3 separate regions of the Homo sapiens genome follow, and regions 2 and 3 are each linked to region 1. Evidence: fine-mapped expression QTL. A gene starts in region 1. Each other region holds a variant in brackets. All regions are shown on one strand. Distances are from middle to middle.

Evidence for each region.
Region 2: its variant is fine-mapped to the expression of USF2 in whole blood (INTERVAL, PIP above 0.99).
Region 3: its variant is fine-mapped to the expression of USF2 in whole blood (INTERVAL, PIP above 0.99).

What each region holds. Positions count from the first base shown.
Region 1 is chr19:35,265,645-35,273,819 of GRCh38, reverse strand. USF2 (upstream transcription factor 2, c-fos interacting) reads right to left here and starts at 4,858. Exons shown (of 10, transcript NM_003367.4): 1 at 4,657-4,858; 2 at 4,328-4,374; 3 at 4,121-4,239; 4 at 3,817-4,017; 5 at 3,223-3,373; 6 at 3,015-3,102; 7 at 2,679-2,737. The coding sequence starts at 4,718. It overlaps LSR (lipolysis stimulated lipoprotein receptor), which reads right to left. Exons shown (of 10, transcript NM_205834.4): 6 at 7,288-7,461; 7 at 7,082-7,141; 8 at 6,853-6,984; 9 at 6,086-6,711; 10 at 5,856-5,996. The coding sequence ends at 5,961. RefSeq lists an enhancer at 2,763-3,502 and silencers at 3,790-4,109, 4,250-4,439, 5,598-5,747, 5,848-5,917, 5,998-6,077.
Region 2 is chr19:35,310,341-35,318,515 of GRCh38, reverse strand. It overlaps MAG (myelin associated glycoprotein), which reads right to left. Exons shown (of 11, transcript NM_002361.4): 9 at 7,873-7,969; 10 at 6,499-6,598; 11 at 4,709-5,226. The coding sequence ends at 5,062. Among named protein-coding and RNA genes, the nearest start is that of CD22, 15 kb to the left of the region's middle. RefSeq lists enhancers at 6,069-6,568, 6,569-7,070. The variant G/AGAGG (reference allele first, on the strand shown) is at 3,964.
Region 3 is chr19:35,322,107-35,330,258 of GRCh38, reverse strand. It overlaps CD22 (CD22 molecule), which reads right to left and starts at 1,072. Exons shown (of 14, transcript NM_001771.4): 1 at 1,029-1,072. RefSeq lists enhancers at 326-375, 446-495 and a silencer at 6,751-6,810. The variant A/C (reference allele first, on the strand shown) is at 3,266.

The DNA.
Region 1 (8,175 bases):
AGGCCTGTAGCCGAGGCCGGAGGACTGCCTGAGGCCAGAAGTTCAAGACGAGCCTGGGCAGCATAGCAAGACCTCCACTCTACAGATAAAAAAAAATTACCCCATGTGATGACGCCTGCCTGTGGTCCCAGCCACTCAGAAGCCTGAGGTGTGAGGATCGCTTGAGCCTGGGAGGTCAAGGCTGCAGTGAGCTGTGATTGTGCCACTGTACTCCAGCCTGGGTGACAGAGTGAGACCCCCTTCTCAAAAAAAAAGAAACACTCGCAGCCAAAGCAGTTTCTCAAGCTTGTCCACTATGACAAATCACCTGAAGAGCTGATGGAAAACACAGATTCCCCGGCACCCCCATCTACTCACTTGGAACTGGGACAGCCCTGGAAATTTCACTGTTAACAGTGGGGTAGGAAAGGCAAAGATCACAGGAGAATCAGAGAGGATGGAGGAGAAAGGAAGATTCCAGAAAGGAACAGAGGGAAACAGGCAGCATCAGATGCTTGGAGCCCAGACAGCAAAGGAGGCCAGTGGATGTGGCAATGGGGTCACCACGGGTGACCGGAAGTGGAGCTGTTTTGGTAGAGCCATGAGCCAGATGGCTGAGGGTACTGGGAGGATGAGCAGATTGGGGCAGATGCTCTGCAAGTCAGGAAAGCGGAGACAGGACGGAGCTGGAGAAGTGGGCAGGTGATGAAGACTGCTTCACAGGGTGAGAAAGTTTCAAGGCTGCCTGGAGTCAGATTAACTAAGGGAGAGGCGGGGGTGAGAGTGGGGTGGGAGGGTTCTGAGTCCTCTCTTCGCCTTACTGTGTGGCCACCAAGACTCACTGCATCCCCACCAGGTGCCCGGGGCGGCTGTGCTTCCACCATTTCACAGAGGGAAGACAGGTACGGAGATTAAGAACCACCCTGACGCCCCACCACAGGTAAGTCGTGGGGCTGGGGCTGCTCTGGGGGCCCCTCAAACTCACTGCATCTCAAAACCAAGCTCAGATGCACCCCTTCCCTTCCAAGCATGGAGGGGAGTTCAGCACGAAACCCTTATTCTCCAGCCTTGGAGTCCTCCCCACATTTCCCCCAACCCCTGCCCTGTCTCAGGCCTGACAGTCGTATGGTCTCCTACCTCCCAGCCCCTTCCCACCACTCTTGCCAACAGCCTCCACAACCCAAACCCCTCTGCTGGCTTCTCATCACCCTGGAATAAAACCACAGGAGCCCAGACAGCCACACTGGGGACTTCTTCCAAGGTCCTCCACCATCTGGCCTGGGCAGCCCCCTCCACTGCGCCAACTTCCTCTTTCCTTTCCTGAATTCTGCTCTTCTGCAGACACACCATGGCGGCCCTGGCTCAGGGCCTGGCCTGTGTTCTAGCTCTTCCCTCTGCCCGGGACTCTCCTGAGGTTCTCAACAGGCCCCTTCCCTCAGGTCGCTTCAGGGATCTGCTTCAATGTCACCTCTCGAAGAGCCCTTCAGAGCACACTACCATGCCGCCATCACCCGCCACCTTCTTCCCCAGCTTTCCTCTCCTGCCTGTGACTGCCTGCACTGCCTGATGCGGCTGTGTGACTCCCATCTCTCCCACCAGAACGCGCACAGAGAGCTGAGACCTTGTCTGTCCTATCATCTGCTGCATTGCCATATCTGAGGACGCAAAAGGGGGGCTGGTCGTAGTATGCACGCGCTGAATGAACGCCTGAACTCAGGGAGGAGCTGCTCAGAACACAACTACCTGGGCCACAGACCCCAGTCCCATCACCACCTTTAGGACTCAGCATTCAGCCCCTCACTCGGGCATTCGAGGCCTTCCCGATCTTCCCTCCTGAGGCATTCTAAATGGAACTTCTCCCACAACCAAACCAGCACCCCACAAAGTAACCTGACCCACACTCCCCTCTCCCTAGGGAAGCGTCACCCCAGCCCACCCCCCATCAATGTCCCATGAGACCCATGAGACATAAGCCCTCAGGCCTTTGAGCCTCCCTGACGCTCCAGGCCAGACTCCAGACCTGGCACAGGGCCTGTGCCGCTCAGCCCAGAACCCACGGGCAGTAAATATTTGTTGAATGATGGTTGTTTGGGTGTAAGCACTCTCCTGGCACTTGCACAGTGCTGTGCCCACTGCAGTGGCTACTGACAGGCGGGGCGGGACAGTGCTGAAGGCCAAATGACCTGAGGTGAGACCTGGTGTTTCTGGAAAGGGCAGGATGCTCCGGCCTTAGGTAGCCAGAGGCAGAACTTCATGCAGTTTCTCCCTCAGATGTGCTCCCTGGGGGAACAGACCTACTTCTGGAGGCCAGGCAGGCATGGGAGTGCGGGATGTGAGCATGACAGCTGCCACGTGGAAAGGTCAGCCCACGTGAGCCCGGTCAGCCCCATTTTTCAAGTGGGGCAGGCAATCCGTATGGGAGTGTGAAGTCCACCATCTTAGATGTGGGCCATGAATTCAAGATCACCAGCCGGGTCAACAAATGGCCAGTTCCAATTCACACTCCCTGTCCCTCTACTTCTGACACTGTACTCTCCCCTCGTTGCTCACTTTCTACCTTTACAGCGTCCAGCAAAGCCCTCTGGAGCACTTGTGGCCTGCCCAGGAGTGGCTTCTCTCTCTGTCACTCCACACTCCAGGGCTGGCTGAGCCTGTGAGGGTGGTGGTCAGGGGGACCCGGAGCCACACCTTGTCCTCACCTTCGTTGTGCTGGGCTCTTCTCCTCTCATCTCGGGGTGTTCTGGTTCCATCAATTTTTCTACAAGAGGAGGAAAAAAAAAGGGGGCATGTATTATCGCAGAGCTGTTTGCCCAAGCATCTGCTAAGTATTAGATTTGAAAATTATCTTTGCAAGGTAAATCCATCTGCAAAAACAAAAGACATGATACTTTATGTGCACTAGAGCAGCAGAAACAGGCAAAGAAAAAAAACATTACACCATGTGCCCACTTCATGCTAACTGCCCAGCTTCTACTCCAGAAACCCCTCTTCCTTCCATTTCAACACCAGGCCCTCCAGGTGTCCCCTGCACATACGGAGAGTAAGGGTGTGTCCGGGGGGCGATCGTCCTCTGTGTTCCTGTCTGAAGCACATCCTGGGGCGTCATCATGACGTAGAACTGGCCTGCAGGGAGAGTGGGGGGTTAGTGGCAAGGCAGGGTGAAGTCAGAACTGGCTGGGGGGGCTTCCCTCCCTGCTGGGCCCGTTGCCTCCCCCACCTGCCAATCTGACTTCTACTCCTCACCTCCAGCCTGCAAGCTCTGGTCTGTGGTCTGTACGGACACAGCCGTAGTATCTCCCACACTGGACGCTGGGAAATAGGCAAATCGTGCCTCCCCGCTGACAGCCTCGGCCGCCGGACTGCCACCATTGCTGAAGGGATTTTGGATCACAGCCTGGGGAGTAGGAGGGCAGAGGCTACCCTTAGCTTTCTCTGTTCCTCCATCCCGTCCCCTCATTGCTGTGCTTGGGGTTTACTGCATTCTCTGCAATTAACAGGAGTGGGGACTCCTTCTGCGTGTAGCATTCTGTCCTGTGTTTCAAACAGCCCTGGAACATGGCGGGAGGTCAGCGATCACTTGCTGAGCAAATCCGTTTCGCACTCTAAGAAACTTTCCTCTTAAGACACATCATTCCCATTTTGCGGGAAAAAAAAATTCCAAGAGCACTGTCCCCAGGTTTCACGGTGCACAACAGGGATCTGGCCCCATGCAGCCTGAGGCCTGAAGGCAGCATCCGCTGGGCGACACCTGCCCCACCCCCGGGGCTCCCCAAGAGCAGAGCCAGTGTCCCCTCTCCACTCCCTCCCCCCCCCACCCAGGGGTGGCAGGGCACCTACCAGCGGGAAGGGCGCTGCAGGACCTGGGGGCACAGAGGCAGCGGCGGGGCCCGGGCGCTGGGCTGCCCCGTCCACACCCACCTGGGTCACAGCCTGCTGCCCCCCCGCGAAGGCAGCGGTGGACACGACGCTGACGGCGCCAGCTGTGTCGCCCTGGCCGTCCAGCTGACCATCAGTCACCTGGACTACGCGGTATGTCACCTGCAGGGGGCGGCAGAGCGGCGAGGCCGGCGCTGGGGCCAGGTCCGAGCCTTCCCGGCGCGCCCGCCCGCCCGCCCGTTCGCCCTCGCGGCCCGCCGCTCACCTGTCCTCCATTTGTCTCTGTGCGGAACTGGTACTGGATGTTGTGGTCGCCGAACGCCGCCTGCTGGACGCTGGTGATGGCCACCGCTGTCTGCTCCTCCGCTCCTGGGCCGTCCCCGCCTGGGGCCGAGGAGGGTCGGGGCACGGTCAGGGCCGCGCCGAGCGCCCCCAGCCCTCCCCGGGCGCGGCCGGCCCGGCAAGCACTCACCTTCCTGCAGCTCGACGCCCTCCTCCGCCTCGGGTCCCTTGTCGTGGCTGCCAGGGGCACAGGAGGGAGCAGGGTCAGCGCGGCCCGCGCCCGCGCCCCCGCCCCCGCGCCCAGCTGCAGGGCCCCAGTCCCACCCGGCCGCGCCTGAGGCCGGGGGCGCCGCCGAGGCCGGGGGCCGGGGGCGGGAGGCGCCAGGTCCCCCCCGCGCCGGCGGCCTCCATTTTGAGCCGGGCCCGCGGCCGCTCGGGATCATGGCGGCCCCGGCCTGCAGGCCGCGGGGCCGGGGCCGGGGCCGGGGCGCGGGGGCACGGCCGGGCCGGGGATCTTACCTGGCGGCGGCAGCAGCGGTGGCCGAGGCAGCGGGATCCAGACCCGGGTCCAGCATGTCCATGGGGGGGGCGGGGGCGGGGGGGGCGCGGGGCCCGGGGGGGAGGGGAGGGGAGGGGAGGGAGGGAGGGGAGGGGGCGGGCGGCCGGGGGGGCCCCGAGCCCGGCGCTCACGCCGCGCGGCAGGAGGGGACGGAGGAGATACGGGAGCCGCTCGCGCTGATCACGGGGACAAACAGTGGGGTCATGTGAGGAGGAGATGCCGCCGCCGCCGCCGCAGCCGCCGCCGCTCCTGCAGCCGCTGCAGCCGCCGCCGCCTCCGCCTCCGCCCGCCCGCCGGCTCCGGGCGGCCCGAGGCTCCGGGACGCCGCGCGGCCGCCCCCAGCCCACCCAGCTGCCCGCCCGCTGCACGCGGCCCTCAGGCCTCCTTCCCTGAGCAGCCGCCGCCGCCGCGACTTTTTTTTTTGAACACGGCCCGCCCTGGCTGGCCGCCGCCAGTGCCCTGGATCGCCGGCTCGCGCGGCCGCCGCCCGGCTTGGCCCAGTCCGGCGGCGGATCGCTGCTGCAGCCGCCGCCGCTTTCTATTTTTCCCCCTTTTTTTTTTCCTCCTTTACTTGAGCTGCGCGCGCGCGGCGGCGGCGGCGGCGGCGGCGCGAGCCCCGGGGCGGACGCGCGCTGGGGGGAGGCGGCCCGGGGCGCGCGCGCTGGTCTGTCTCCGGGGGCGGGCGGGCGCGCGCGAGCCCGGGGCTCCGCGGGGCGCGAGGTCGCCGCGCGCCGCCCTGGTGAAACGCGGGTCTGGATGGAACGTCGGGGTACCCGGTGCAGGGGCTGGGGTCGTCGGGGGCCAGGTGGGCTGCCCGAGTTTGGAGACAGTAAAGTAGGTCGGTGGGGGGCTGGGGGGGATGGGCTGGAAGGGGAGAGGAGCGCGCGCGCGTCCCGGACGGCCAGCCTGCGGTGCGCGAAGGCGGAGGGCCGGGGCGCATGCGCACGCCTGGGCGGGGCCGGGGCGCGCACGCAGGCGGGCGGCGGCTGCGCGGGGCACGTTCTCCGGCCGGCGGCGCGGGCGCGGGCCGGGCCAGGCTGGGTCTCTTCCTCCCGGCCCCGGACTCCGGTGCCCCCGGGACGCGGCGCTTTACAGACGCATACGGGAGCAGCCCCGGTCCCCCGCCCCGCGCGGCCGAACAAATGGTTCTCTCCAGAGCTTGTGATTATACGTTTTATTAGACTCGGGAGGGGTATGGCAGGGCTTCATCAGTGTTCCTTCAAATTAAAAAAAAAAATACAAAAGCTACGTAGAAAACGTCAGATCAGACGACTAAACTTTCCCGACTCAGGGCCAAGTTCTGCAAGGGAGAAAGAAAGAAGGGTATGAGCCGCGGGGACCGGCTGGGGGCCCAGGGACGGTCTGGACGCCAGGGAGGGCGGCCCTCACCTTCTTGAGCCTGCGCTCTCGGGACGCCTGCGAGTCGGTCTCCGAGTACGGGGGCGGCGCGGGCGGGTAGTAGGCCTCTTCCTCCTCCTCCTTGTGGGGTCTCCTCCTCTCCTCCGACCCCTTCTTCCTCACAGCCTCCTCCAGTAGCCGCCCATCATAGGGGAGGTCCCCGGACCTGGAGCCGTTGTCCCGAGGGTCCCGGGTACGGTGGTGGTGGGACCTGGGGTCGGCAGGAGGGCGCTCCCGAGACCTGAAGTCGTCGTAGTGGGGGTCCCGGGAGCGTGGGAAGTCCCTCGAGTCGTCTTGGTCATAGAGGTCGTCCCGGCTGCGGCTCCGCGGGGGCATGTAGGCCCGGCTTCTCCCACCATTACTCGTGGGAGACCTGCTCCCTGACTCGGCGGTGCTCGGCGGGGTGAGGTCGTCCAGGGCGTCCACGGAGCGGGCCCGGGGCCGCCTGGCCCGCCAGCCCCCGCCTGCCTGCTCCCTGGCGGGCTCCTGGTCCCATCCCCTGGGACTCCGGGGGGAGTGGCCACCCCACTCCTCATCCCGGATCGGGGTGAGGGCAGGGCCCCGGGAAGGCCGAGATCGCCAGTCGTCCTCGTGGAGGGAGGTGACTTCACTCATGGCTGCAGGGAAGGGGGGTGTCACTGACTGCTGGAGGAGCCCGGGGTCCAGGGTTTGCACCAAGAGTCCCTGCGGCAGGTATCAGGGAGACATGTTTCACCCCCCCACCTTAAAAGCCCTCAGACCCCAAGGCTCCTGCTTACCCCGCTCCACACGGCCACTGGGGGGGCCAGGTCGAGAAGGGTCGAAGTTGGCCAGCTCCTTCTCCATGTAGTACAGGACCCGCATGGAGTCGTCCTGCTGGCTGGCCTGAATCCTGTAGCCACTGCGGACTTCTAGGGACAGGGGGGTGGTGGTCGGTTTGGGAGGATGGATCCTGGCCCACCCCTCTCCCTTACAGGCACATCCAACTTCGGGACGATGGATTCTCACCAGAGGCCACACTGCTGTCCGTGTCCCGAAGCAGGGGTACATAGGAGCCTTGGCCACCAGCTGGGGGAGAGTGGCTGTCAGTGGCCGCGCACCAGGAGCAGAGCCCCTCCTCGGCTCCCAAGACACTCTTCCTTCCAGCCCCTGCCCCTCAGTGTCCAGATGCCCAGCACACTCCCACCAGCTGTTCCTGCTTCCCCCGGCCTCACCTGAGCTACTCCTGTCAACGTCTCCAGGGTATCCTCCAGGGTACCCGTTGTAGGCAGGGCCCATGGGAATCATAGCTGGTGGGGGTGGGGTCTTGGCGGGAGACAGGTGGGCATAGGTGCTGGGGGCATAAATGCTGGGAACACCTGAGGTGGCTGCTTTGCCGGCGGCATACACTGTGAGGACACAATCAACAGGAGAAGGGGGATGAGGCAGGAGCCAGGCTGCCCCATACCCATTGGGTTCCGGAGGGACCTGGGCCTGGACCTCCTTCCCAAGCCGTCCTCTCCGCTGTAGAGCTTCCTTGGACATCTGAGTCCCTGTTGGTCCTCATTCCATTTCTGCAGCATCCCTGAGGCTGGGGGACACCAGCTTCACAGAGACCCCACCCCACTTCCTGTGTGATTTTTCAGAGGGTGCACGCAGGCACCCACAGCCCCAGGGTGGCAGAACAATGTTTCATTTAACAGCATGGTAATTCGCCAACATTTGTCAATCAAAAGGTTTTACCTAAACTTCCAACTCCCCAGCTAACTTACTGGAAGAAGTGGCCACCCATGGTCTGTGTGTTTACAGGGCAACAAAGCTGCCCTTTATATAAAGCCCAGATGCTGGGTCCACCACTGTCCCCACAAGCCGAAATCAAGTATCCTCTTTGGCAGCCAAGCCCCTGTTCTAGAAAAAATGAGTCATCTGGGAGACGTGGGTCCTGCCCACCTGGTCACCTTCCAGATTGAGATGCAGTGGCAGGAGCCTCGGGAATTAACTTGCCTGCCCCGGCCAAGCAGCAAAGTGTCTCCTCTAGTGTTTCTAACTCATGGACTGCACCCATTTCTGCCTGCCCCACCAGGCTCTAGGCTTGACAGTTCAAGGTAAGATCCTCCTCCCTT
Region 2 (8,175 bases), 45 kb before region 1:
GCCTGTAATCCCAGCTACTTGGGAGGCTGAGGCAGGAGAATCACCTGAACTCGGGAGGCGGAGGTTGTAATGAGCCGAGATCATGCCACTGCACTCTAGCCTTGGTGACAGAGCGAGACTCCATCTCAAAAAAAAAAAAAAAAAAAAAACCTAGGATTAAATTCCATTGCTGGGCGGGATGGCTCACGCCTGTATTCCCAGCACTTTGGGAGGCTGAGGCGGGTGGATCACCTGAGGTCAGAAGTTTAAGAGCAACCTGGTCAACATGGTGAAACCCCGTCTCTACTAAAAATATAAAAATTAGACAGGCGTGGTGGTACATGCTTGTAATCCCAGCTACTCAGGAGGCTGAGGCAGGAAAATTGCTTGAACCCGGGAGGCAGAGGCTGCAGTGAGCTGAGATTGTGCCACTGCACTCCAGCATGGGCAACAGAGTGAGACTCTGCCTCAAAACAAACAAACAAAGAAACAAACAAACAAGCCCCAGTCCTGCCTGTGGCCTACAAGGCCCTGTGTAATCGAGCTTCCTTGGGCAACAGAGCGATACTCTGCCTCAAAACAAACAAACAAAGAAACAAACAAACAAGCCCCAGTCCTGCCTGTGGCCTACAAGGCCCTGTGTAATCGAGCTTCCTTGGGCAACCACTCTGGCTCCATCACTCCACTCAAGCATGCTTCTTTCCTTCTTGTTCCATGAAGGTAACAAGTACATTCTCGCCAGGGGCCTTTGCACTCGATTTTGGCCTTCCCTGGACCCACATTCCCCAGGAACCCACAGAGCTCCCTCCCTTACTTCCTTCTGGTCTCAAGTCAAATGACTTCTCTTTCTGAAATGGCAGCCTGACCCAGCACAGCCTGACCTTGCACCCCTCTGCAGTTCCTTCACTGTCAGATGTGCGGTCATGTGTTTGCTTGTCTTTCTGATCGTTGTCTGTCTCTTCTGCAGAATGTCAGCTCTGGGAGGTCACAGAGTGATTCTTTTTGGGCACTGCTGTGACCCTGGGGCCCAGCATAGGCCTGGCACACAGAGGTGCTCAGTGAGCATGTGTTGAATTCTGGTGGGGTCCAGGAGCTGGGTGGGGAAAGTCTGAGAGAGTGAACTTGAGTTCAGGTCCTACTGGTTTGTTTGTTCGTTTTTTGAGACAGGGTCTCACTCTGTTGCTGAGGCTGGAGTGCAATGGTTCAATCTCGGCTCACTGCAAACTCCATTTCCTGGGCTCAAACTATCCCTCCCACCTCAGCCTCCCGAGTAGGTAGGACTACAGGCGCATGCCACCATACCTGCCTAATTTTTGTATTTTTTGTAGAGACAGGGTCTCGCTATGTTGCTGAGGCTGGTCTCAAACTCCTGGGCTGAAGCCATCCACCAGCCTCAGCCTCCCAAAGTGCTGGGATTACAGGCATGAGCCACCGCACCTGGCTCGGTCCTACACGTTCGCCATGGCTGAGTGCCGGTCCCTCCTAAGGATGGTCTTTGTGTCAAATTCCCTCATTGTTTCCCAAACTTTAGAGGTTTGCCTACAACCTTCAGGAGCCACCTGCAACATGTTTATTTAATACATTTTTAAAATCAGTTCAGTTGATTGATTTCTTTCTTATTTATTTATTTTGACTTAGCCTCATCCGAAGCTGGTGCGGCATTCTGGTTTCCTGTTGTTCCGGTGCATACTAAATGAAGCATACACAGTAGCGTCACAGTGGCTCCCAGGGCCCTCAAGCTGCACTTTGGGCAGCGTGAGTTACTCCCCGATCCCTGGTTATTGACAATGTTTTGCTCCTCTGGGTGAAGTCCTCCCAGGCCAGACCTGCTGGAGCCAGAGTCTGTCGTCAGGGGACAGGTGTGTCAGGGCAGGGCTGGTGAGCATGTATGCAGGGGATCTGGAAGAGGCTTCCCTCCCGGCTGCTGAGAGGCCCCTGTGTATCCCCAGCCCCATCCGATGCCTCTCTGGCCTTGCTTCAGCTCCTGGAATTTTGCTAAACATGTTCCCACTTGGGGCCTTCACACATGTGTGAGTTTCCTTCCATAGGGAAGCCTCCCCTGCCCCCTGTGACCTTAAGTCACACAGCGGTCCCCAACCTTTTTGGCACCAGGGATTGGTTTCATGGAAGACAATTTTTCCATGGGCCTGAGAGTGGGGAGGGAGCTGGGGATGATTCAAGCACATTACATTTATTGTGCACTTTATTTCTATTATTATTACATTGTGATATATAATGAAGTAAGTATACAACTCACCATCATGTAGAATCAGTGGGAGCCCTGAGCTTGTTTCCCTGCAACTAGACGTTCCCATCCGGGGGTGATGGGAGACAGTGACAGTTCATCAGGCACCATCTGTGAGTGTGCAACCTAGATCCTTTGCGTGCACAGTTCACGATAAGAATCGTGCTGCTATGAGAATCTAAAGCCGCTGCTGATCTGACAGGAGGCAGGACTCAGGTGGTCATGCTTGCTCGCTGGCTGCTCGCCTCCTGCTGTGCAGCCCAGTCCCTAACAGGCCACAGACCAGTATCTGGGTGTGCAGTATAGCACTGGGGACCCCTGCTGTAAAAACTCTGAGCTTCTCCTTGGAAGCCGGTGTCACAGTTGCAGTTTGATATTGTGCATGAGATTCTTTCATGTCCTTGTCCCTGCAAGACTGTGAGCTCCGTGAAGAAAGGGCATGCACCCTCCCAGCTTGGACAGGCCCCACAGAGGGTTTCCCTTCCCACAGCCCGGCCCCCCACACGTCTCCTTTCCTCCTGCATGTGGACTTCCCATCCCAGCCAAGCAGCCCCATGTCACCTCCCCTCCCGACCTGGTTTGTTTATTCCTGCCTCTAGGCCTTTATTTTGGTCTCTGTGCTGTGTCCTCTGCCTTCTTCAAAATGCAGGGAGAGACCAGGCACAGGGGCTCATGCCTGTAATCCCAGCACTTTGGGAGGGTGGGTTGGGCGCATCACCTGAGGTCAGGAGTTCGAGACCAGCCTGGCCAACAATGGTGAAACCCCGTCTCTACTAAAAATACAAAAATTAGCTGGGTGTGGTGGCACACGCCTGTAGTCCCAGCTACTTGGGAGGCTGAGGCAGAAGAAGTGCTTGAACCTGGGAAGCAGAGGTTGCAGTGAGCCAAGATCGTGCCACTGCATTCCAGACTGGATGACAGAGTGAGACTCCATCTCAAAAAATAAACAAAAAAAACAAAAAACAAAAAAAAATCAGGGAGAGCTGCCGTCTAGGAAACCCTGCCCTCACTGCCCGCAGCCCACAGCTTAACCTTACTGCTCCTCCAGCACCCGGGCTCTGTGAGCAGCTGTTGGTTCTCACCAAGATGGCCGTGTAGCACAGCGTCAGAGTGTGGCCTCCGAAGCCAGTGGTCGGGGCTCAAATCTGGGCTCCACTGCTAACAATTGGGGACCACAGAACTGATGTAACTTCTCCATGCTTCAGCTGCTTGTTCTCAAACGTGCACGTGCATCAGAATCCACCAAGGACTTCTCAAAACACAGATTCCTGGGCCCCACCTCAGGGTTTTTGATTCCTGAAGTCTAGGGTGGGGGCTGAAAATTTGCCTTTTTAGCAAGTTCCTGGGTGCTGCTGATGCTGCTGCCTAGGGACCACACTTTGAGAACCATTGTCATAGTTATTAGGGAAGGTAAATGAGGTTAATGGAGATTAATTAATGCAAACTGGGTAGAATCATAGAAAGCGTTCAACAACTGTTAGTTATCAATCCCATTTATACCAGACACTCTGGCCCTTTTTAACTTCCTGACAGGTATTATAGAAAAAGTGCATTTGATACAAAAATTAGCCGGGCGTGGTGGCGAGTGCCTGTGATCTCAGCTACTTGGGAGGCTGAGGCAGGAGAATCACTTGAACCCAGGAGGCGGAGGTTGCAGTGAGCTGAGATTGCACCACTGCACTCCAGCCTGGGTGACAGAGACAGACTCCATCAAAAAAAAGAGAGAGAGAGAGAGAGAG[G/AGAGG]GAGGAAGGGAAAAGAAAAGAAAGAGTGCATTTGAATCAGAAGCATCAACCCCATGGCCTGGACACACCGTTTCCGAGCTCTGGGACCCTGGGAAAATCACCTAACTTCTCTAAGTCTCAGTGTTCTCATCGTCACAGAGCTGTCCTAGGAGACCCTTCTCAGGACAGCCTGAGCCTCTAGAAAGGGCTCAGTATACAGCTGGTGCTTAATTAATGTTTCTGGAACTGAATGTAGTGATGTATAAAGGCTGACGCTGCAAATTGCAGCATGAATGTGAGAGATGGTGGTGAAACCAACACGGGCTGGTGAGACCTAGATCTGTGGCTCGCACTCCAAGCTGCAGGGACCAGGAGGTAATCTCAGTGCAGGAAGCCGGCCAGGTGTGGGACAATAGGGAGTGGTGGGGACTGCGGCCAGTGCACAGGACCCTCCCTTTCAGCAAGTCATGTCCACGTACAAGTGCAAGCCTGGTGCTGTCAGCTGATCTGACTGCGGCAAAAACCAGCATGAGGATTTTTATGTGAAATCATCCATAAGTCAAACCAGACCCAGCTCGCAGCTACCAGCTCAGAGTGGGAGCAACTTAGTGGCCACTGGCCCTGGGTTCAAGGCTAAAATCCCTGGGCCCTTGCCTGCATACCAGGCTCAGCCGAGGGCAAGGAGAAATTCTGTCATCGTTCTGTAGACGGTGGGATGGCAGGCTGCCCAAAGGCGGGTCAGAAAGCATCAGGATCTAGACTGGCATTTGGCTTTGGGGCATTTATTTCATGTCCCTTTTGTACAGGCCCCAGGGCCAGGTGTGGGGGCAGGAGACCAGGCAGGAAGTAGCAATAAATAACACGGACAGACAGAGCTCCCCTCCAGACAGATGAGGGTAAAGGAGGTTAGAGAGGAGCCGTAATGAGGGCGTGGGGGTGCTGGCAGGGAGGGGCAGCTGGGAAGGAGGGGGAGGTCAGGCCCCCAGGACCTCACTGTCACCTGCCTCACTCCCCTCCTGCCCCAGCCCCCGATACTTTTGGGAGGAAGGGAGCCCACAGCCAGTGGGGGCCAGCGAGGGTCCTGAGGGGGGTCAGCCACGCAGGCTGCCCCCAGCTCCTTCACTTGACCCGGATTTCAGCATACTCAGCTAGCTCCTCCGTCAGCGTGTAGCTGTCCTTGGTGGGCCGTTTCCCCAGGTCCGAGTGAGAATAGCTCAGGTCCAGCTCTGGGGGCTCACCCCGAAGGCCCAGCAGCCTCCTCTCAGATCCCAGGCGCCTCTCGCTCTAAGAGGGGAAACCGCCCATTAGCAGGGTCCTGCTCCCTGCCTTTTCCCAATGCAGAGGACAGAGCGTTTGCACCCTCAGAGCTCCTGAGTTCAGTCCCAAATAAATCCCTGCGAGAACCTCCTTTCTCAAGGACCGCAGGCCCAGCGAGCCCTGCGGTCACCAGGTCCCACTCTGGAGCTTCTGCCAGTGTTAATCATTGCTGAACTTGAAATTTGCCTACAAATTCAGTTTCTCCAGGAAGCTGCTTCTTCTTCTTCTTTTTCTTTGAGACCCAGGCTGGATTGCAATGGCTCGATCTTTGCTCACTGCAGCCTCCACTTCCTGGGTTCCAGCAATTCTCCTGCCTCAGCCTCCCAAGTAGCTGGGATTACAGGCACCTGCCAACACGCCTGGCTAATTTTTTGTATTTTTAGTAGAGACAGGGTTTCACCATGTTGGCCAGGCTGGTCTCAAACTCCTGACCTCAAGTGATCCATCCGCCTCAGATTCCCAAAGTTGTGGGATTACAGGTGTGAGCCACTGCCCCCGTCCAGGAAGCTTTCAACATAGGAGTTTTGAGGGCACACAATGTAACCCCTAATACCTTTTTGGGTGAAAACCACCTAGTCAGGACCCCATCTTTCCAAATTCCTGGAAATACCTGGTTTGGTACGTGCCCCCCCATGGGTCCTGCATGGGTCCGCCCTCAATCTGGGAGGTCCTGCAGGTGACATGTGGGTTCCCCCCACGCTTCCCACCCCTCCCTCCACCCCCTAGCCACAGGAATTTGGACACACAGGACGGTGGCCACAGACAGAAGGGAGCTGCAACAGGACAGACTAGACAAGGCCAGCACTGCCGGGCAGGCCCGGACATCACCAGAGACCACCTTGACGCCTGACAGGGACACACGGACATGCACGCCAACCCCAGGGCCCAAGGAGGGCCCAGAGGAGGGCACACTGAGGCCCCCGGAACCTACCTCCTGGGGCACTCAGTGAGATTCCAGGGTAGAAACCTCTTTGGACTATTGGAGAAGGAAATGCAGTCACAGACACAGGCAGGGAGGGGAGGGGGCCCTTAGGCCCCACGTCCCATCGCCCCCTACACAGCTTCGGCCTGGGCACCTCCTCCCCAGCCTCCAGGTCCAACCCAGCCCTGGAATGTCCTTCCTCTCCTCCTGTGAGAGGCCGCTCCCACTCCCCTGCCCCTTGGCCTCACAGGCCTTTCCCAGGCCTTCAGTGTCCCTGGCATCCAGGTTCCCAGGCCAGCCTGGAGCCTGGTCCTTACCTCGTACTTCTCTGGTGCCCCAGAGATGCGGAAGTCGCTGCTGAACAGGACGGGAGGGTTGTCCCCTGCCGAGAAGCTGGGGCTCTCTGTCACGTTCTTTCTGCAGGGCAGGACTCGTCAGACCTCTCTCTGCCCTCCCTTTCTGCACCCCCACGTGTTTTAGGAGTTTGGCTCAGGGGACCTCAGAGTTCTCCCACCCATCTCTAAGATGTGGCAAGCAGCCCTTTCAGAACCACCAGCCTCTCCTACCCACACAGCCCATCCTTCCCACCTCTGTGGCCCCTGCCCGGCTGGGGACGAGCCACCTGGCCCCTGAGCTCTGCCGTTTTTCAGGACCCCCACCTGGATTCTCCAGGTTCCCCTCATAGGCTCTGGGTCTTTCTGCCCCTCTTGCCACCAGGATGTGGAGCAGAGGGGTTAATTTATTTCTCAGGACAGCTGATGTGTGTGTGCCACAAGAAAGAAACACGGCTGCAGCTGAGTTGGGCCAGGTGGGTATGGTTTGGGGCTGGAGAGGCTTTCTGTCTGTCTGTCTGTCTGTTTGTTTGTTTTTAGAGACAGGGTCTCTCTTTGTCACCTAGGCTGGAGTACAGTGGTGAAATCATAGCTCACTACAGCCTCAACCTCCCAGGCTCAAGCGATCTTCCCTCCTCAGCCTCCCGAGTAGCTGGGACAACAGGCACGTGCCACTAGTAGCTAATTTTTTTGTTTTTTTGTAGATGGGGTCTCCCTATGTTGCCCAGGCTGGCCTCTAATTCCTGAGCTCAAGAATCGTTCCACCTCAGCCTCCCAAGTAGCTGGGACTACAGTGTGTGCCACCATGCCTGGCTAATTAAAAAAAAATTTTTTTTAGAGATGTGGTCTTGCTATGTTGCCCAGGCTGGTGTCAGATTCCTGGCCTCAAGCAATCCTTCCTCCTTGGCCTCCTAAAGTGCGGGATAACAGGCGTGAGTCAACGCGCCCGGCCAAGGCCTATTTTTTTTTTGCCCCAGATGTGTGTAATCTTTGGGGCTTCTGGCGTCAAGTGGACCTGCTGCTGTGGCTGCAGTGGGGTACCTGGGCTTTCCCCACCACACTGGAGTGTGTAGGGGAGAGTTCCTAGAGATAGGGAGGCTGTCAAAATAGAATGTGGGCAAACAGGTCTCAAATGATGTGTGTAAAGGGCTCAGCCCAGGCCCTGGTGTGCCCCTGACCAGCAGGGGCTGGAATTAACAGGAACCCTCTCTCCTCTGTCCAGCTGAACATTCCCAGAACAGAATCTGCCTTCTCTACACTTATGGTGCTGCCTTCCCCCACCCACTCTGGGCCTCCATCTCCCACCAGGTCCCCTTTTTGGAGACTCCCATCCCCAGATCAGCCCCAGCTGGCACTCACTTCCTGCGTGTCTGGGTAATGTAGCAGACGATGGCAATCAGGATGGCAAAGGCGACCACGGCGCCCACAGGCCCGATCTTGGCCCACATCAGTCGATCTGAGGACAGAAAAGACCCAGGCGCCCTTAGGGCTATGGGTGGTGGTGACGACACCTGAGAACTTTGGAGACATGCTGGGATGACAGTCAATGTAGTCACACAGCCGGGGCATCCTTGCACTGACTGATTGGCACGGAGCCTCCTCGTGCCAGGGCAATCCCTTTCATGCTAGAGGGCCCTGGGGAGGGGCTCATGCCTCAAAGGT
Region 3 (8,152 bases), 56 kb before region 1:
GTTCAAGTGATTCTCCTGCCTCAGCCTCCTGAGTAGCTGGGACTATAGGCATGTGCCACCACACCCGTCTGATTTGTTTGTTTGTTTGTTTGTTTTAGTAGAGATGGGGTTTCACCATGTTGGCCAGGCTGGTTTCAAACTCCTGACCTCAGGTGATCCCCCCAACTTGGCCTCCCAAAGTGCTGAGATGACAGGCGTGAGCCACCGCACCTGGCTTAAGTAAGATTCTTTACTGCAGGACTTTAAAAACCTTTCAGTAAACTCTATCTACACCATTAATCTCTAGACATGGGGATTAGAGTATAGTATAATACATTGTCCATACTTCTTTGGCCATGGGATCTATTTTACATGTTCCATAAAAAACTTAGCAGGGTTGCAGAGCCAGAGTTCTTTGAAATCCCCTTAAGGTTACCTAAGGGGTAACAAGGGCTGTGGCAAGGACTAGACTCCGTTCCCTGCAGCCAACACTTGCCTCCAGGAGCCGGGCCATTGTCCCTCCTCTGCCAGCACCCTCCAGCCACAACCTGCTCTGGGACGGGCTGGAGCATCCCAGCATGAGTGGGAGATGGGCGCCTCCAGAGCAGGACTGTGTGCTGCCTCAAGGAGCTCCAGGAGTCTCTGGAGCACAGGAGTAGGGCCCCAGGCCCGGGAATTGGAAGGCTGAGGGTGGGGTGGAGGTTAGGGACAGCAGTTATTATGCACAGAGGCTCAGGACAGGGCCATGCTGTCCAGACCTCCTCAGTCCAGGCCTGTTGAGGGCCTTGCAGAACCTTGGGGCTGACCTCCCTGGCTCCTTCTTCCCTCCTGGGCATCCAATAACCTACCCTACTCTCAGAAGACTCAGCAGGCCTGGCAAGGAGGATGCTCAAGACAGGGGTCTGTCTACAACCTGTTGTAACACCGGTAAGAGAGAGCCAGGGAGGTCCCCACTGTGTTCCCAGCTCTGGGAGGTATGCCTGGCCCATAACTGCTGTTCCGTAATAACTTGCTTGTTGAATGCAAAATAAAAGCAAAATGATTTTTACCTGTTTCCGCGTGTCTTCCCTCTTCAGGGACCCTGGCAGCATCTGAGAGCAAAAGGAGAAGTACAGTAAAGTCTCTGGTGACAGAGGTTTCCCCTCCATGGCCACACCCCCTGCTTCTCTATGGCTCTGAGGGGGACCAAGCAGCACCGTGATCTGGGGAGTGGGGAAAAGAGACGATTGAGGGGGATGCGGGCTCGGAGTCAGATTGGAAGACTCGAATACGTATGGGCAGTTCTTCCTTTCCGTGTATGGGTTTGCAATATCAGATCAGTTTCAGAATGGGCTCCTCCACAACTCCCCCTCTACCCAGCTCTCAGGAAATGCGAATGACTCAAGCCAAGCAGGAGAACTGCAGCCCGCTGAAAAAGGCACAGGCCTACCTGAAAGTATTTGTAGTTTAGTGACACCATCCAGTTATTACCATTTCCACTCTTTTCATCATAGGCATAAATGGTGGGGAATCTGACCACCTACACTGAAGCCCCCAAGGGTTGAGGGAGGAGCACATAGATATTGAGGAGGAAAAAGATATCTCGGCCGGGTGCGGTGGCTCATGCCTGGAATCCCAACACTTTGGGAGGCTGAGGCGGGTGGATCACTTGAGGTCAGGAATTCGAGACCAGCCTGGCGAACATGGTGAAATTCCGTCTCTACTAAAAATACAAAAAATTAGCTAAGTGTTTTGGCAGGCGCCTGTAGTCCCAGCTACTCAGGGGGCTGAGGCAGGAGAATCACTTGAGCCCAGGAGGCGGAGGCTGCAGTGAGAAGAGATCACACCACTGCAGTCCAGCCTGGGTGACAGAGTGAGACTCTGTCTCAAAAAAAAAAAAAGAAAGAAAGAAAGAAAGAAAGAAAAAGAAAAGATATCTTGTAGGACTGGGCATGGTGGCTCATGCCTGTAATCCTAGCGCTTTGGGTGGCCAAGGCGGGTGGATTGCCTGAGCTCAGGAGTTCAAGACCAGCTTGGGCAACATGGTAAAACCCCATCTCTACTAAAAAAAAAAAAAAAAAAAATCCAAAAATTAGCTGGGTGTGGTGGCGGGCGCCTGTGGTCCCAGCTACTCAGGAGGCTAAGGCAGGAGAATCACTTAAGCCCGAGAGGCTGAGGTTGCAGTGAGCAGATCGCGCTGTGGCACTCCAGCCTGGGTGACAGAGCCAGATCCTGTCTCAAAAAAACAAAAAAGATATCTTGTAGGAAGTGTTATTGAATGGAGAGTCTTTAGGCTGAAACCTCATCACCTTTATAATCCTGTAGCCAGCGAGTGTCTCAGGAGCAGAACAGACAGCATTGGAAGCCATGCACATCCTACAGATGAAGAGGGATGCGCTGAGAGGTCTTCACTCCAGCACCACTGCCCTCTATGGGCAGCTGGCCATAGGGAGGGAAACAGAGAGAGGGAAGAACACCTTCTTCCAAAAGCACCGATAGGGCTGGGTGTGGTGACTTATGCCTGTAATACGCTTTGGGAGAGCAAGGCAAGAGGATTGCTTAAGGCCAGAAGTTTGAGACCAACCTGAACAACACAGCAAAACTCTGTGGGGCTAGTCAACAAAAGCAAAAAATGAAAAGTAGCTGGGCATGGTGGCCCATGCCTGTGGTCCAAACTACTTGGGAGGCTGAGGCAGGAGGATCGCTTGAGCCTGGGAGTTCAAGGCTTCAGTCAGCCATGATAGCACCACTGCACTCCAGCCCAGGCAACAAAGTAAGACCTTGTCTCAGTAAATAATAAATAAATAAAATGAACAAAAAGCAGTGATGTTCTGGAAAGATGGAGTAGATGTATTTATTTATTCTGCCAAGTATAACTGAAAACCTTGAACGTGACAAGACAAGCATAAGAAGACTGAAAGATGGAGAGAAGCAGACTGGTTAGGAACCTCGGGACTTAAGGAATGGTGGTGAATTCCCTGGGATTTCTCTTTGCCTCATATATCTCAGGCTGAATACTGGAGAAGCCAACAACTGAAAATGCCAAGGGGCACAAACAAGAAAAAGTCCCAACAGAACAAGTTCTAGCAAAACTATGCTTTTCTAGCCAAAGAACGAGGAAAGGGGCATCCTAGAAAGACAGAGCTCTTTTAGTCCATACCTGCTCCGCTCCATCCAAGTTCCATCATCACCCTTGTCAGCAAAGGCCGGATGGAAAACCTAGACATTCACCTTCACCAGGCTGTAACAAAGAACCCTAGGCCACTCCCATACTCAGCCAGAGTGATGCTAGAGTTGGAGCTGGGAC[A/C]TTCCTCCCCACTGGGATCACCCTCCCCCGATGTGGTGTTGGTGGAAACCATGTGGGCAGCCTGGACATCCACTGCCACCCCAATGCAGAAATGAGGCATTCCACCCGGCCCCATTGGAGTAGTGTCAAAGGGGGCCTGGTGGAGAGTTGGGACTTTCGCCACCACTCAGTGGTAACAAGCACCCCCCTCTCTCTGCCACACACAGTGTCAGTGAAAGCCACATAGGGAGCAGTAATGAAGCATCCCTCCCACTCCCAGCCAGGGAGTTGTCATGGATTCCTAGTGGGGAACCTGAACTTCTACCCTTACCAAACAATAACATGGAGGCCTCATCTCTCCCAACCCCCCAGGTTCAGGAAAGGCTGGATGGAGAACCTGGACTTTTATCCCTGTCTGGAAGCAATCAGGCAGTGCCCTACTTTATTTCGCTGGAGCAGTATAAAGGGAAGCCCACTAAAACAAAATATTTAAAGAAGATCCAGAATCTTATAACACAGTGCCCAGAATATCCTGACTTCAATGGCAAATCACTTGTCATACTAGGAATCAGGCATTCTCAAACTGAATAACAAAAGATAATTAACAGACACAAACATCAAGACGACACAGATGTTAGAATTATCTGACAAAGATTTTGGAGCAGCCATCATAAAAGTGTTTCACTGAGAAATTATAAATGTGCTTGAAACAAATAAAATAATAAAAAGTATCAGCAAAGAAATAGAAAATATAAAGAAGAACCAAATGGAAACTTTAGAACTAAAAAATACAACTAAAAAATACAAGAGCTGAAATAAAAACCATAATGGATGGGCTCAATAGCAGAATGGAGAGTATAGAAGAAAGAAGCAGTGAAACAAAACGTATAACAATAGAAATTACCCATTCTGAACAATGGAAAGAAAATAGATGAAAGAAAATGGAACAAAGCCTCAAGGACATGAGTAACTATAATAAAAGAAGATCTAACATTTTGTCATTGAAGTCCCAGAAGGGGAGGAAAAGGAGGGTGGGCCTTAAAAAAATATTCCAAGAAGTAATGGCTGCAAATTATCTTCATTTGACAACACACACGCACAACATATGTCTACAGATTCAAGAAGCTGAGCGCATCACAAACAGGATAAACCCAAAGAAATTCATGCCAAGACACATCATAGTCAAACTTCTAAAAACAAGAGGCAGAGAAAATTCTCGAAAGCAACCACATAAAAATGCAAAAAATTAGCCAGTTGGGTGGTGCGTGCCTGTAGTCCCAGCTACTCAGGAGGCCAAGGCAGGAGGATCACTTGAACCTGGGAGGCGGAGGTTGCAGTGAGCTGAGATCCTGCCACTGCACTCCAGCCTGGGCAACAGAGCGAAACTCTGTCTTAATTAAAAAGTAAAATAAAATAAAAACAAAAAACCTCTGGAAGATAACATAGGAGAAAATCTGTGAGACTTAGAGCTTGATGAAGTGTTCTTAGACATGACACCAAAGGCATGATCCCTAAAAAAATCAATCCAACTTCATCAAAATTAATTTTTTTTTGCTCTGTAAAAGACCTAGTTAAGAGAATGAAAAGACAAATTACAGACTAAGAGAAAATATTTGCAAACCACATATCTGACAAAGGACTCCTATCTAGAACAAATATATAAAGAACTCTCAAATTCAACATAGAAACACTACATAAAAAAATCAAATCATCCAATTAGAAGACTGGCAAAAGATATAAAGAGAAATTTCACCCAAGGGGATATATGGATAGAAAATAATTATCTAAAAAGATATTCAACATCACTAGCCTTTAGACAGGTTAAGACCATGATGAGATATCACTACTAACATCTATAAGAACAGCTAAAATAAAAGATAGTATCAAATACTGGAAAGATGTATGGAAACTAAATCATTTATATATTGCTAGTGTGAATATAAAATTGTCCAGCCACTCTGGAAAAAAGTCTCAAAACAGTTCCTCCAAAGATTAAGCATAGAATTACCATACACTCCTGCATCTCCACTCTTACATATATAACCAAGAGAAATAAGAACATGTTCACCCAGAAACTTGAACACAAATGTTTACAGCAGCATTATTCATGAAAGCCAAAAAGCAGAAACAACCCACATGTCCATGAAGAGATGAATGAATAAAGAAAATATGGGAGACCTAAACAATAAAATATTATTTGATAATAAAAAGGAATGAAGTACTGATAGATACTACAACATGGATGAACTTTTTTTCGAGACCGAGTTTCACTTGTTGCCCAGGCTGGAGTGCAGTGGTGCCATCTCGGCTCACTGCAACCTCTGCCTCCCAGGTTCAAGCGATTCTCCTGCCTCAACCTTCTGAGTGACTGGGATTACAGGCATCCGCCACCACGCCCAGCTAATTATTCATATTGTTAGTAGAGACGGGGTTTTACCATGTTGGCCAGACTGGTCCTGAACTCCTGACCTCAGGTGATCCACCCGCCTTGGCCTCCCAAAGTGCTGGGATTACAGGCGTGAGCCACGGCGCCTGGATATGGATGAACTTTGAAAACATTAAGTGAAAGAAGCCAATCACAAAATGTCACATATTGTATGATTCCATTCACGTGAAATATTCAGAAAAGGCAAATCTGTAGAGACAGAAGTAGATGTAGCGGTTGCGTAGGGCTGGGGTGGGGTGGGAAAGGTAAGAGGAAATGAAGAGTGACTGCTAATGGATGTGAGATTATTTTGGGGTGATGAAATGTTCTAAAACTGGTTGTGGTGATGGTTGCATAATTCAGTGAATAGACCCAAAACCATTCAATTGGACATTTTACATGGGTGTGTTTTATGGTATGTGAATTATATCTCAGCAAAGCTGTTATATATGTAGTATATATGTAATATATAACAGCTTTACATACAGCTTTAACACACATATGTGTGCATATATGTGTGTGTATGTATATTGTGTGTGTGTGTGTACATATATATATATATAAAATAAAAATCAGGCTGGGCACGATGGCTCACACCTGTAATCCCAGCACTTTGGGAAGCAAAGTGGATCACCTGAGGTCAGGAGTTCAAGACCAGCCTGGCCAACATGGCAAAACCCCATCTCTACTAAAAATACAAAAATTAGCAGGCATGGTGGTGTGCGCCTATAATCCCAGCTGCTCAGGAAGCTGAGGCAGGAGAGTCACCTGAGCCCAGGAGGCGGAGGTTGCAGTGAGCTGAGATCCCACCACTGCACTCCAGCCTGGGCGACAGAGTGAGACTCTGTCTCTAAATAAATAAATAAATAAATAAATAAATAAATAAATAAATAAAAAACAGTCCAGTTAGAAAATAGGCAAAAGACATGATGACACCTTTCCCTGAAGAAGGTATATAGAAGGCAAATAAGCACATGAAAAGATGTCTCACATCACCAGCCATTAGTGAAATGCAAATTGAAACCCATGACAAGATACCGCTTTAGAACAGCTAAAATTAAATAACCAATAATGACAACACCAAACACTGGTGAGGATGCTGTGAACTTGAAACATTCACACACGACTGGTGGGGATGCAAAGTGGTCCAGCTACTCTGGAAAACAGTTTGCCGGTTTCCTGAAAAACTAAACAAAATATACCTACCAGATGACCCAGCAATTGCACTCCTGGGCATTTTATCCCTAAGAAATGAAAACGTATGTCCACATAAAAACCTGCACACAATTATTCACAGCAGCTTTGTTTGTAATAGCCAAAAACTGGAAACAGGCCAGGCACGGTGGCTCACGCCTGTAATCCCAGCACTTTGGGAGGCCGAGGTGGGCGATCACCTGAGGTCAGGAGTAATCTCAGCATTTTGCGAGGCCAAGGAGGGCAATCACCTGAGGTCAGGAGTTCGAGACCAGCCTGGCCAACATTGTGAAATCCTGTCTCTATTAAAAATACAAAATGAGCTGGTCGTGGCGGTACATGCTGGTAATCCCAGTGTAAATAGTAAAGTAGAAGTTCCTTTTCAAAGAGACTGTCCTCCCCATCTAATTAAGAATAAATAGTAACTTCTCTTAGAAGCAAAATTTATTCAAAGACCTGTGCTAACATTCTTAAATATCTACTAGCCATAATAAAAAAATCAATGTACTTTATGTTCTTAGATCCTACAATTTAGCCTAAAGATTTGCCCTAGCATGCTTATACTAGTCCAAGAAAGCATTAAGTCAAAGCCTGTTCCTCTTCCTTATTTAGAAATGTTTTTACTTTTCTCAGTATTCCACGTTACTTTCTCCTTCCTTTGTTCTCCTCTGCCTTTGCCTCTTTTAAAAAGTTCTAAGTTGCTAGCCAATCCAGACAAATACAGAATGTGAGGTCCCGTTTCAGCCAATAGAAACCAGACACAGCAATAAAGTAGATGCATCAAGTTATAAATGACCCTGTCTCCTTTGTTCAGTGTACTTTTGTAGCAAAACTGCTAGCGAGTATACCCTTTCTGCAGAAAGTAAAACTAGCCTTGCTGAAGAAATTAAATTTACATTAAAGTGCTATTTCTTTACAGCACCAAAAATCAAGCATTTCTAACACAAGCTACTCGGGAGGCTGAGGCAGGAGAATTGCTTGAACCTGGGAGGCAGAGGTTGCGGTAAGCCGAGATCACGCCATTGCACTCCAGCCTGGGCAACAAGAGCAAGATTCCATCTCAAGAAAAAAAAAAGCAAAACCAAAAACTGGAAACAACCAATACGTCCTTCACTAGGTGAGTGGCTTAACAGATTACGGTACATCCATGCCATGGAGTACTATGCAGCAATAAAAAGGAGTGAGATATGAAGAGGATACAGGCAACAACTTGGACGATTCTGAAGAGTGGTACAGAGAGTGAAAAAAGCCAGTCTCCAAGGATCACATGTGTTACAACATTCTTTTTG